Homo sapiens: one gene and its partners. The protein of the gene in region 2 purifies or fractionates together with the protein of the main gene of each other region. This does not show direct contact. Each region holds a gene or a part of one and is shown on either strand. Other genes may lie near its edges. The genes, in order: STK39, ATL2 and ACRBP.

Region 1 (3,650 bases), about 130 Mb from region 2:
TATGAGTATACTACTTCTTTTAATCAGTAAAACTCACTTTTTATTCTTGGGTTTTTAAAATAAATCCTCCCAAATTTTTCCAGTAACCATGAAACAATCATAGACCATACTCTATGTAAAATAGCATTATAATTTCACTAAACTATTTCAGCCTCAAAACAAAATCCAGTTGGGTAAATAAGCCCTGATACCACTATCTCAGAACTAAGAGAAATAATGAGGTATAAACCAGTTAAAAGAAGAGCAGAAACGTGAAAATAGCATCCTAAAAACACTGTGGCTCACTTATATCAGATCAGTTGCCAACATTACACTATAAGAGCAGGGGTAAAAATGTTGTAGTCCACTTAAAAAGAAAGAAAAAAAAAAGCTCTGAAAATCTGGGAAACCCATTTGCAGAGATGACATCACTATAATCTATTTTGAGATATTCTCTGGGAACCTGGCGTTGTTCTGCTATCAAAAGAGTAATGACCAGCATTTGTCATAGCTATCAACCTCCATCAACCAATCTGATAACATTATTTTCTTAACTCTGTGCTGAGACTATAAAGCAAGCTTCAAAGCTGGGAATTATGCTACTTTTGTCCTATTCTGTCCACTGAGAAAATCAGACAATGTTCAACTTGGCTGCGTTCCTCCATTAATTCTCCTCGGGTCTAAGAGAAGAATGAAGATGTTGAAGAGAATTAGAAAACAGATTCCGTCCAATCACATTTCAACCCCGATGTAGTATTTCCAATTGTAATTACTTTCATGGGAGGATATTTGTGATAAGGCGCTGCTCCTGTTGCTAATTCAATGGCAGTTATTCCAAAACTCCACATGTCAGCCTTGAAGTCATAGCCTCTCACCTAAGAAAGAAAGCAGGAAAAAAACACAATCATACAGCAGGCATGTTACACATCATCAAGTCCATGTCATGTCAGAAATCCACAGCTGTTGATGTATAACTTTCACGTTAGTTTGCTAATTAGCTAGCAATTGAGAATTAAATCTTAGTTACATTATGCATTCTACTAAAATGCTAGATACAAATGAAATGTTAGCATATTAATGATCTGTACGATTGTACTATGTCCATCAAAAAGTCACTTTTTTTGTTTTTTTACCTGTTCCATGACTTCAGGAGCCATCCAACATGGGGTGCCAACGAATGTTTTTCTTACTTTATTTCGGGTAACATCACCCCCTGTTGCTAGGAACGCACTTACCCCAAAATCTGAAAGGGAAAAAAAAATCACCTTTATTTTATGTAAGACATTATTGCTTATAAATTGTGATTTTTTGAGCATGTCTCTTCTTTGTGAGCTTTACAGTGGTGATGAACTATTCCAAACATGTCTACGGTGCTCTCTCAGGAAAAAAAAGGAAGACCTGCCCTCTGCTATCCCCTACACCTTGGAGAATACCATCGCTGGTAATGGGCCACAAGCCTGCCGGTCCAAAAGCTTAGCATACCAAATTAAATATAAAGGGTGTTAGCTTTTAGCTGAGGTATATAAAGATAAGATATATAAAGCCAACATGCCCGAGTATGTCCATATGCAAAAAAGCTTAGTCAGCAAAGACTGATTTTCTGGACAATTTTCATAAGTACAGAGGCAATGGATTGTACAAGTAAATAATATTTTTCTTAACTTTAACTCATTATATATAGAAGTTAATTTTATAAGAAGATGAATTAATTAGGCATACTGTACAGATTGAGCATCCGGAAATGCTTGCGACCAGAAATGTTTTAGATTTTGGATTTTTTCTCATTTTAAAATACTTGCATTATATACTAAACTAGTTAAGTACCCCTCATTCGAAAACCAGAAATCTGAAATGTACCCGTGAACATTTCCTTTGAATGTCACCTCACATTCAAAAAGTTTCAGAATTTGGAACATTTGAGATTTCACATATTCTGATTTAGGGATACTCAACCTATATATACATACAGGCACATGTGTAAAAATTCTATTTGTATGTACAGTACAGAAGGGAATGCCTGGCAATTATTAACGTACTATTCTTGCTTTCATTTTTACACAGTGGTTAAAAGTAGTTGATAAGTTAAAGTACCAATTACTCAAGACTAGTGTACCTATCAATGATAGCCAGGTCAAGGACTACTTGATAGCGAGCTGGTGGGTAGTAATAAAAACAGGTAGGCAACACATCAAAACACCACAGCGCAATGTGCAGTCTGAGCCCCTGCAAATCGCTCTCATACGCTTTTCCTTTGCGAGTCCCCCTTGTTGGCTGTCAGGGTGACAGCAATTACCAAAAAACACCCTCAAGTACAAACCAAGGTCAAAATGTATTAGCATTTGCTGTAGGCCTATAAGGTTAGTTTATGCAATTGTAACTTAATAACATTGTAACTGGTTTCCTGAGTAGAAATACATTGAATGTTGCATTTTATTTATATTTAAATTTACTCATACTCCCAACAGGATTTCAACTACAAATAAAAGGAATGAAAATTGACAAATGGAGTCTTTGTTCCAACTGCTACTCTCATGTTCATATTGAATAAAAGTATATATGTTTAAACTGCTAAATAACTTAATATGCATATATGTTTCCAACTCTAAAGCCCTTTTAATTCTTATACTGCAGCCAGAAAACTGAAGTCTTGTGAAAAGAAATCTCTGGAACCAGTCAGTCTCCTGTGGGTGGGAGAAGATACAATTCATTCTCTTAGAGAAGAGTTAGGTGAATTAAAATATTTGTAAGCATCTACTATATCTGCTGGAAAAAATATATATGATAAAACTTTGAAAGCTACTAATTTCAACTTAATTTATATTTCTAAAAAGAAGTTCAACGATGAATCCAACATTTCATTTTTATTAAAATGATTTTATAATATAATATGAAATAAATACATATCATCTATAAATTAAGGATACAGGTAAAAGCTGCTTTAAGGAAAAATTGATTATTTTAAATGCAATTGAAGCAACTCTGCACCCTAAAGTCTCTTCCTAAAAGACATAATCCAGGTAAAAATCCATAGTTAACATTAGATATATTTCCACTTCCTTAAAAATACTACCTGCTTACATTACACATTTTAAAAAGTTAGAAAACAGCCGAAAAAGATGTATAGTAGCCATTTATTATTGACAATACCCTTTCAATATATCTGTAATGATACATACATTCAGAGCCTCCACTTTGAACACTCACTTTAAAGTCATAAACAGATGGCTAAATGTCTTTAAAACTCAGAACAAAAATTTCAGGAGCAGAAAACAACAATCCTAATATCTACTCCCTCTATGACTACAGAAGAAATATACAATTTGCTCCTATGTACGGCTGATGTGTATACAGATTATATGTACTCAGTAACAGAACATTTTGAGCAAAGTACATAGTGTGCTTATGTTATATACACAAAAAATTGGTATATTATATTGAGATAGCTTGCATATGACAGTTAGAACAAGGTGGCAGAACTGTAACAGTGAAAAGCTGTCCTTGTTTCCTAAGGGGTACATCTATACAGCCAAAGGGAATGCAGCCAGATTCACTTGGGTACAAAACCACAGACATTTCTCTAGAAACACAGAATCAAAGGCTACACATAAAGTTAGCCAGTCCATCTCCCTGCCTCCAGGAATAACTGGAGGATATGGGTAAATGCTGCTTTA
Region 2 (3,750 bases):
ACAGAATCCTATCAACTTAAAAAGCCAATAAAATGAGTACTTATTTGCTTTCTAAAGATCCTACATTCCTAAAAGAATAAACACAAAGCCTCTCCCTAACACTAAACTACTCAAGTGACACTTGACCCCAACTTGGTTTTTGAAGCTATTTCTCCAGGAAGCAGAGGGAGACAAAGAGTTTCTACACAGTCAAAAATAGATGAGTCCTTTTCATTCAGTCTGTTTCTTCTCACTTTAAACACAAATCCTACCAAGCTCATTTAGTTTTTAACTCATTAATGAGTGACTCGGAGCAAATTAGCAGGTACAGGGACTGTTTTAGGCAATCATTTGCTAGGAATGGCTATCAAGTGAAGGTCTTGCTGATCCGTCCTAAAAAACAAAGGACAAAAACCTATGAGTAGCAGACAAAAGCATTTATTAAATAATAAATGGTGGGCCCTATTTCAACAACAATCTGAAGAGTATCATCTCTTCTCAAGATACCACAGCACAACAACGTTCACAACCATAACTGAAGTATAAATTTATGTTTCTTCTAATAAGGTAAATACATAGAATATTTTGAAACTGCATCTAAAACTCTTACCTCAAAAAAAGGAAAGAAAGAAAGAGAAAGAAAGAAAAGAACACACACTTCTTCCCCTAGGGTCCAACCAAAAGAGCGAAATTAATCCATCCGCATTCCAAAACAATTAATTACTTAAGAAATCCAACCAGCACACATCTAAGGCGAAGCTGCTTCTTTGGTAGTTTTTTATTCTACAGAGTGCTACCACTGTACAAACAGTCAAGCGTTTTGGTTGGCAGACAATAATAAAATAAGCTTTATTTCCTTTTCTTCTTCCCTTAGCAAAACTCCAGTCTGTCATCACCTCTGACATGCGCCAAGAACTACCAGGAATGATGAAGTATATTTCAAATAAACTTTCCTATTAAAGTGAGTCCTTGTGGTTAACATCATACCAAAATGCTTTACATTTTATCCAGCAAAACCTTTACACACCGTAAAAAAAGAAATCTTAAGACACGAGCTCGTATCTGTATTTAATAATAAACTCTTATCTTGGCCGTACTTACCAAATCGTAGGCTTTTACTATTTATAAGCCTTTGAAAAAACTTTATGCCTTTCTTAAGTACCATCAAAATTTTCAATCAGGATTTCATGCGATCAATTCGCACCACAGTGAGAGATCAAACGCTAAACTCCTATAAATAGGGGTGTTATGAGTGAGAGGGATACACTGCGCTGCCAACGCAACTGCGTCTTCGAGGGGGCAGGGGCGCTCCTGGTACACGTACAGTAGGAGCTCACATTCAGCAAAACCAGGGAGCCAAGGATCAGGTGACTTCACACTACAGACACTTTCAGAGTGATCAGGCCTTACTATCGTCCAAGTGACTCGTAAACGGCTCATAACCCCAGTTTGACACGAAAATCTAGACTTGCACCCTAGCCACGCACAACCCGCGCGAATGGGTTCGGGAGCCGAGGAGCCCCGAAACGCGAGCCCGGGGACAGAGCCCTGGCCTGCGGACTGCGGTTCCCTCCAGGAAGGGTGTCTAAGGAGCTTTCGGACCCGGCAGCAAGGTGTCTGCTCCCCGCGCGACCTCCTCCTCCGCGGGGCCCATCATGCCCTGGCCACCCCTTCCTCCCTGTCCGCGTAAGGGACAGCGAACGCCCACCAGCTAACGGGTCGCCCCGCCGCGTCCGGAGCTCGCCGGACGGAGCGGAGCCGCAGCCGACCTCCCCGCGCCCCGGGCAGGCGGCCACGGCTCAAGGCCGCCCCCTAAGGTCGGGGCGGACACGGCGGCAGCCACGCGGCGGGCTGGCGGGCAGGGGGCCGGGCCGGTCGCAGACGCGCGCGCCACTGGTTCTCCCAGCAGCTACTGGAGCCGCGGCCCACGAGCCGCCCTTTCAGGCCGCGCGCTGCGGGAGCGCGGGGCGCGGCTGAGGCTAGGCCCGGCGGGCAGGCGCGGCGGCGGGAGGAGACCTGAACCAGCCGCGGACTCCGACCCCGCCGCCTGCGGCCGGTGCCCGCGAGCCCGAGCAGCGAGCGTCTCTCCCCATCAGGGCCCCGCGGCCTCTGCCTCGCTGGCCCGTACCTAGGGAGGTCGTGGACGAGACGTGGTTAACCGCGGCGCTTGGGTCGCTGGTCCGTCGCCGGCGCCACAGCCCCTGGTGCGGTTGCTGCCCTCGCGCTGCCTCGTCCCCCTCCGCCATCTTGTACCGATTTAAAATTAACTCCCCACTGACGTCAAACGCCGCCGCCGCTTTATCAACCTCCCGGGAGCCGGCGGGGTGGCCGGCGGGTCCTAGCGCCGCTCTCCGCCTGTATCTCCTCGCCCTCCGCCTGTATCTCCTCGCCCTCCGCCTGTATCTCCTCGCCCTCCCTCCGCCCCCGCCCCGCCCATCGCTCGCTCGCTCCGCCCTCGCCCTGCCCGCCTGCAGATCCGTCTCCCCGGCTCCAAGTTTCTGGTTGGACTGGGGCGGGGGTGTCCCTGCCGCCGCCGTCTCACACCCCCACCTCCCTGAGCTCAGCACCACACCCCCTTAGCGCTGGGCCAGGCTCTGCAAACGCAGAAGGGAGCTCCAGAGAACTAAGTCCCTCCCTCCCAATTCGCTTTACATCTCTAATCGTTGATTCGTGCGTCCTGCACGTGAGGTGGCTTTCGCACCCCTTCTCTCCTTTTCATCGCCCCCTCCTCATCACAGCCATTCCCCTCCTCTCTCCCCATCCACCCCCCAAGTTGTTGCCAGTGCCCTGCTTTTCCTCTTGATCTTTTCTTTCCTCACCCAAGTCCCTACTGTTGCTTCCCCTCCCCCCCACCATCCTAAGGTTTGTTTGCATTCGCTCCCCATCTACTTATGAGACCTTCCCCCATCTTCTCAACTGTGTATACCCTGGCCCTGTGCTCCTAGCACCTTGCAGAGGCATGCCAGAAAGCACTCTAATCGGAAAATGAATCGTGGCAGGTTCTTACCTAATTGTGATGAACCTTCTTCTGGGGATCCAGTGACATCCAGTAGAAAGTTCAGGTCACTTTTTAAATTACAAGTCAGCCCGTGGAGGCGTCTGTGAAACATGATCCCTTTGGATTTTTACCATACTGCCAGCTGCATTAGAAATTCCTCTTCTCCAGTAAAAACAGATGTCCGGGTGTACAAACAGCTGTTTTGTCCAGGTCTTTTCATAAGTCTAAAATTCACAGCATGCACAATCTCTAGAAAAGCACTGGTGTTATTAAAGCTTTCAAAATACCATTCTAGGTAGGGCATGGTGGCTCACGCCTCCCGGGTTCAAGCAATTCTCTGCCTCAGCCTCCGGAGTAGCTGGGATTACAGTCCCCCGCCACCACACCCTGCTAATTTTTGTATTTTTATAGACACGGGATTTCACCATCTTGGCCAGGCTGGTCTTGAGCTACTGACCTCGTGATCCACCCGCCTCAGCCTCCCAAAGTGCTGGGATTACAGGCGTGAGCCACTGCGCCCGGCCCATCCAAATATATTTCAACAGAATATGGAGTTTGTCATCATTGTCACATAAATCTAGGAGAATAACTATATACGTGTTCTTGGCAATATTCTTTGAGTTACTAAGATTCTAGTTCTGGGACTTGAACCACCTCCACAATCTAAAGTACAGTTACCCTTCCCCCTCGTTCATATTGATGGCAGGATCTTTATCAACTTGTTAAGTGATATTCCTCTTACGTCCTTGTGATATATGATTTGGAGAGCTCAC
Region 3 (3,579 bases), on a different chromosome or scaffold from region 2:
GGTAGGAGTGTGGCTGGAGCCCAGGAGGTCAAGACTGCAGTGGGTGGTGATCATGCCACTGCACTCCAGCCTGGGTGACAGAGCGAGACCCTGTCTCAAACACAAAACAACAACAACAAAAACAACCCCAAGGTTTCCTGATCTAGGCTATAGTTCCTGGTTTTTCCCTTCCTGATTAAGTGCAAGGTGCACACTCCCTATACCCCAGGATTGGTCCCTTTGGAAAAGATCTCATCAGGCTTTGGCCTTTATCCTACAGAGGAACAATACTACACTCGCATCTGACATCACGGGGCTTAGGGCTTCAGAAATGAAGACAGGTGCCCACATGCCCACATCATCCCTAGGGCCCCAGCCTTCTTGGCCTTCCTCAGTTCACCTCCCTGGGTTCTCAGGTCTTCTGCTTCTCCTGGCAGATGGCTGCTTCCCTGAGCACCATTCCCATGAGATTCTCTCACCGGCAGGTGGATCCATAAAACCAGGGGTTGGGGACTGACTGCCACGGGGCAGGGTAGCAGTGCTGAGGATGGGGATCATAACCAGAACAGGCCACACAGGCTGAAGATCAACATTTTATGTAAAGTCATCTTTTAAGGAGGGCGCAGCTCCCACCGTGGCCCTCTCTGGGACTGTTGCTCCAACCCAAGGAAATGTGAGTAGGGGCCGAGTAACAGACCCAGAAGGGGCAGCCTGAAAGCAATGGGGTCTCAAAACAATAGAGAACGTGGGCAGGTTGGGCTGGGGTGTGGGCAGAATAGACGCCAGCTCATCCGAACTGGCCTAGAGTCAAGGTGCTGAACTCCTGGCTCCATCGAAGCACAACGTCCTCACTTTTGCCAGGGCTCAGCGCACTGTAAGTCTCATTCTGCAGACATCTCATGCGGGACACCTACACAGAGATTCAGTGCAGACGGTCTGTATCACAGAGCCAGGTGCCAGGAGTGGGGAGGAGGGGAGGTGTCAGAAGCCCAAAAGAACGAGAGGTGGGCAGGCATGGGCACAGGGCAGTAGAGGGAAGGAGGAAACTCAAATGTGGGTTTTTAAAGCCAGAGGAGACATCAAGCAGCCCAACCCCTTTCATGCAGAAACAGGCGGCTGAGGCTCAGAGGGGGAAGTGCCTCATCCCAGGCTACTTGGTGAGTAAGAAGAGGAGACAGACCGAGACCTCAACGTCCAAGTCCTGGCCCAGCCAAGGGTTCTTCCTGTGGTGCTCTTAGGACCCTCCTCTGTTATCCACCAGCTGCCTAGGAGGGCCTTGCTTCCGCCAGGACTGGAGGAATGGAGGAGAGCCTGCTGGTGGAGGCCTCTGCCCCAGAGATGCAAGCAGGAACCGCTTTCCACATCCTAGCTGCTCGCAGAGGGGGCCTCAGAATAGACCAGTTATGGTGACTGATTGAGGGGGTGCTGGGAGAAGGAGGGGCAGGGCAGGGGTGCTCACCTTCCGATTGCGGTTTCTCATCAGACACTGCTGGCTTTTGAAGGAACAGTAGTTTGGGTACTGGATATAGTCTGTGTCACAAATCTAAGCCAAGAGCCAGAGAGAGGGAAGAGGGTATCAGAAGCCTCACCAGGCAGCAGCACTCCAGGGAATATCTGCTAGGGCAGAGCCAGGGGCAGGGTGTGGCCCAAGACCCAGGTCTTCCACACACAGGCGGCCCCTCACTCCGCTTTCCCTCTGCCTTTCCCCTGCCGCTCTGTCACAGGTTGCTGGGAAGAAGCCAGGAGCCTGGGAGAGTATGAGGCTGCCAGTCAGCTTACTGGGAAAGTGGCTGAGGAAGCGGGAATGGGGCAGGACGGGGTAGATAAGGGTCCAGAACATGGGACAGGGACCCGATTAGTGGCCTGATGTCAAGGATTTTTCTGGTAATGGTAGATAAGGGAAGGGGGAAGTGAGTCACTGCCTTCTTTGGACCTCGCCTCCCCATTCCAGATCAAGGGGCCCAGGGACAAGAGCTGGACATGGGCCCCCCAGCTCAGCTACCAGCCCTTGCTTCAGCTGCCCTTACTTTTCCTTGCCTTGGTTTTCCCTGCTAACTACAGGAGGAGAGGCCTGGATCTAAAACAACAGGTCATTCCACAGGGGAGGTAACTCAGGGGAACGGGGAGCCAAGTTGATTTAATTGAGCAGGGAAGGCACTGGAAGAGCTGGGAAGCCCGTCAGGCTAAGGCCGGGAAGTCCTGGATCACAGGGTTGGGCAGTGGTGCACGTGTCACTCAGTCATTTCTTGTAGAGATGACTCTTTGATTGAGTAGGAAGTGACTTGATCACAGCCACCCAGCAAGTAACTGGCAGAGTTGGGACCAGAACCTCTAGCTCCTGTTTTCTCAGCCCTCTGGGTCCCCACTCCTTTGCCTGCTCTATTGGTGGAGGGTGGGGTGGGGTGCAATGGTCTCTTGGAGAGAGGCAGGAGATTCAGTGAGGACGGGTTCTCAGAAGCCAGGGGCCCAAGCCCCCTTCCACAAACTAGCGCTACTCACAGCAAGTAACTGGAAGGAATGGGGTGAGGGTAGGGATGGGGCTGAGCTTTGGGGAAAGGTTCTAACCTTGGTAGGGAAATCCCCATCCTGGAAGCTAAGGAACTCAGTCTGGAGCCACCCAGAGACTCGGACATCTTCACAGCCTTTCGTGGCAAGCCGGGCACACCAGAAGTCCATGTGGAGCCCACCGTACAAATCCAGCCCGTAAAAGCGGCCTGATTCTGGGGACCCTACCTGTGGCACAGGAGATAGGGGAGAGGTGCGTGCCCCTCCCCACCTGCTGGCCACCACCACCCCACCCCTGCCACCCAGTTCTGCCTTTCCCACTGCGGGCTGCCGGGCTAGATACCTGGTTGCCGATGGACAGGCTCTGGGAGGCAAGCAAGGGGCTGACAAAGGGAGTCTTGTGGGAGGTGTCGCATTGTTGCCGCTGCAGGCTGGCCTCTGAGTGGCACTGCTCCAGCTTCAAGGAGCAGAAGTCACAGAGGGCACAGGTAGACATGTGTCGCCGCCCAAGGCTGTCACAGACCTGGGGCAGGGGAATGGGTGAGGCTGAAGCTGAGAGTCAGCGGCCTGCCTTCTCCCATGCCTCAGCCCTCCAGGGTGGGCCCTGCAGAATGTCTTTGCATTTAGCCTCTTCCAAAAGCTTCTCTGGGTTTTCTACTTGGCCTCCTCCCCAAGGGTTCCTCAAGGACCTTGCCTCAGCTATTTCTTCACCCTCTTCCTGGATGATTTATCTACTCCTAGGTAATCATCTATCTGCGAGTGACACCCAAATCTTTATCACCAGCTCTGATCTCTCTCTTGGGCTCCAAATCCTCATTGCCAAGTGCCTGACAGATGTCTGTGATTGGGTGATCTTACAGATACCCCAACTTAGCCTATCTGAAAAGAACTCATAACCCTCCCCTGCCACCTCTGCTAATGATAATGCTAATATTTACAAAGAGGTGACCCAGTGCCAGCACTATGGCTACACATGCTCTCATTTCATTTAGTTTTCACGACAACCCTATAACAGCAGAGATACTAATATTACTCTCATTTACTGACAAGGAAACTGACTCTCAGTGAGGTTGAGTAAGTTGCTCAAAGCCACTT

The links.
Region 1: the proteins of ATL2 (region 2) and STK39 purify together in Homo sapiens (affinity purification with mass spectrometry; one large-scale study listed by BioGRID and IntAct). This does not show direct contact.
Region 3: the proteins of ATL2 (region 2) and ACRBP purify together in Homo sapiens (affinity purification with mass spectrometry, with the first as the bait; one large-scale study listed by BioGRID). This does not show direct contact.

What each region holds. Positions count from the first base shown.
Region 1 is NC_000002.12:168,139,537-168,143,186, forward strand, and holds part of STK39 (STE20/SPS1-related proline-alanine-rich protein kinase), read right to left. Parts: intron 1,223-3,650; coding exon 1,113-1,222; intron 855-1,112; coding exon 753-854; intron 1-752. UniProt on the Homo sapiens protein: Effector serine/threonine-protein kinase component of the WNK-SPAK/OSR1 kinase cascade, which is involved in various processes, such as ion transport, response to hypertonic stress and blood pressure.
Region 2 is NC_000002.12:38,375,036-38,378,785, forward strand, and holds the start of ATL2 (atlastin-2), read right to left. Parts: upstream 2,239-3,750; 5' UTR 2,226-2,238; coding exon 2,108-2,225; intron 1,496-2,107; exon of another isoform or gene 1,145-1,495; coding exon of another isoform or gene 1,081-1,144; intron 1-1,080. UniProt on the Homo sapiens protein: Atlastin-2 (ATL2) is a membrane-anchored GTPase that mediates the GTP-dependent fusion of endoplasmic reticulum (ER) membranes, maintaining the continuous ER network. It facilitates the formation of three-way junctions where ER tubules intersect.
Region 3 is NC_000012.12:6,637,516-6,641,094, forward strand, and holds the end of ACRBP (acrosin-binding protein precursor), read right to left. Parts: intron 3,008-3,579; coding exon 2,828-3,007; intron 2,713-2,827; coding exon 2,545-2,712; intron 1,523-2,544; coding exon 1,439-1,522; intron 890-1,438; coding exon 767-889; 3' UTR 560-766; downstream 1-559.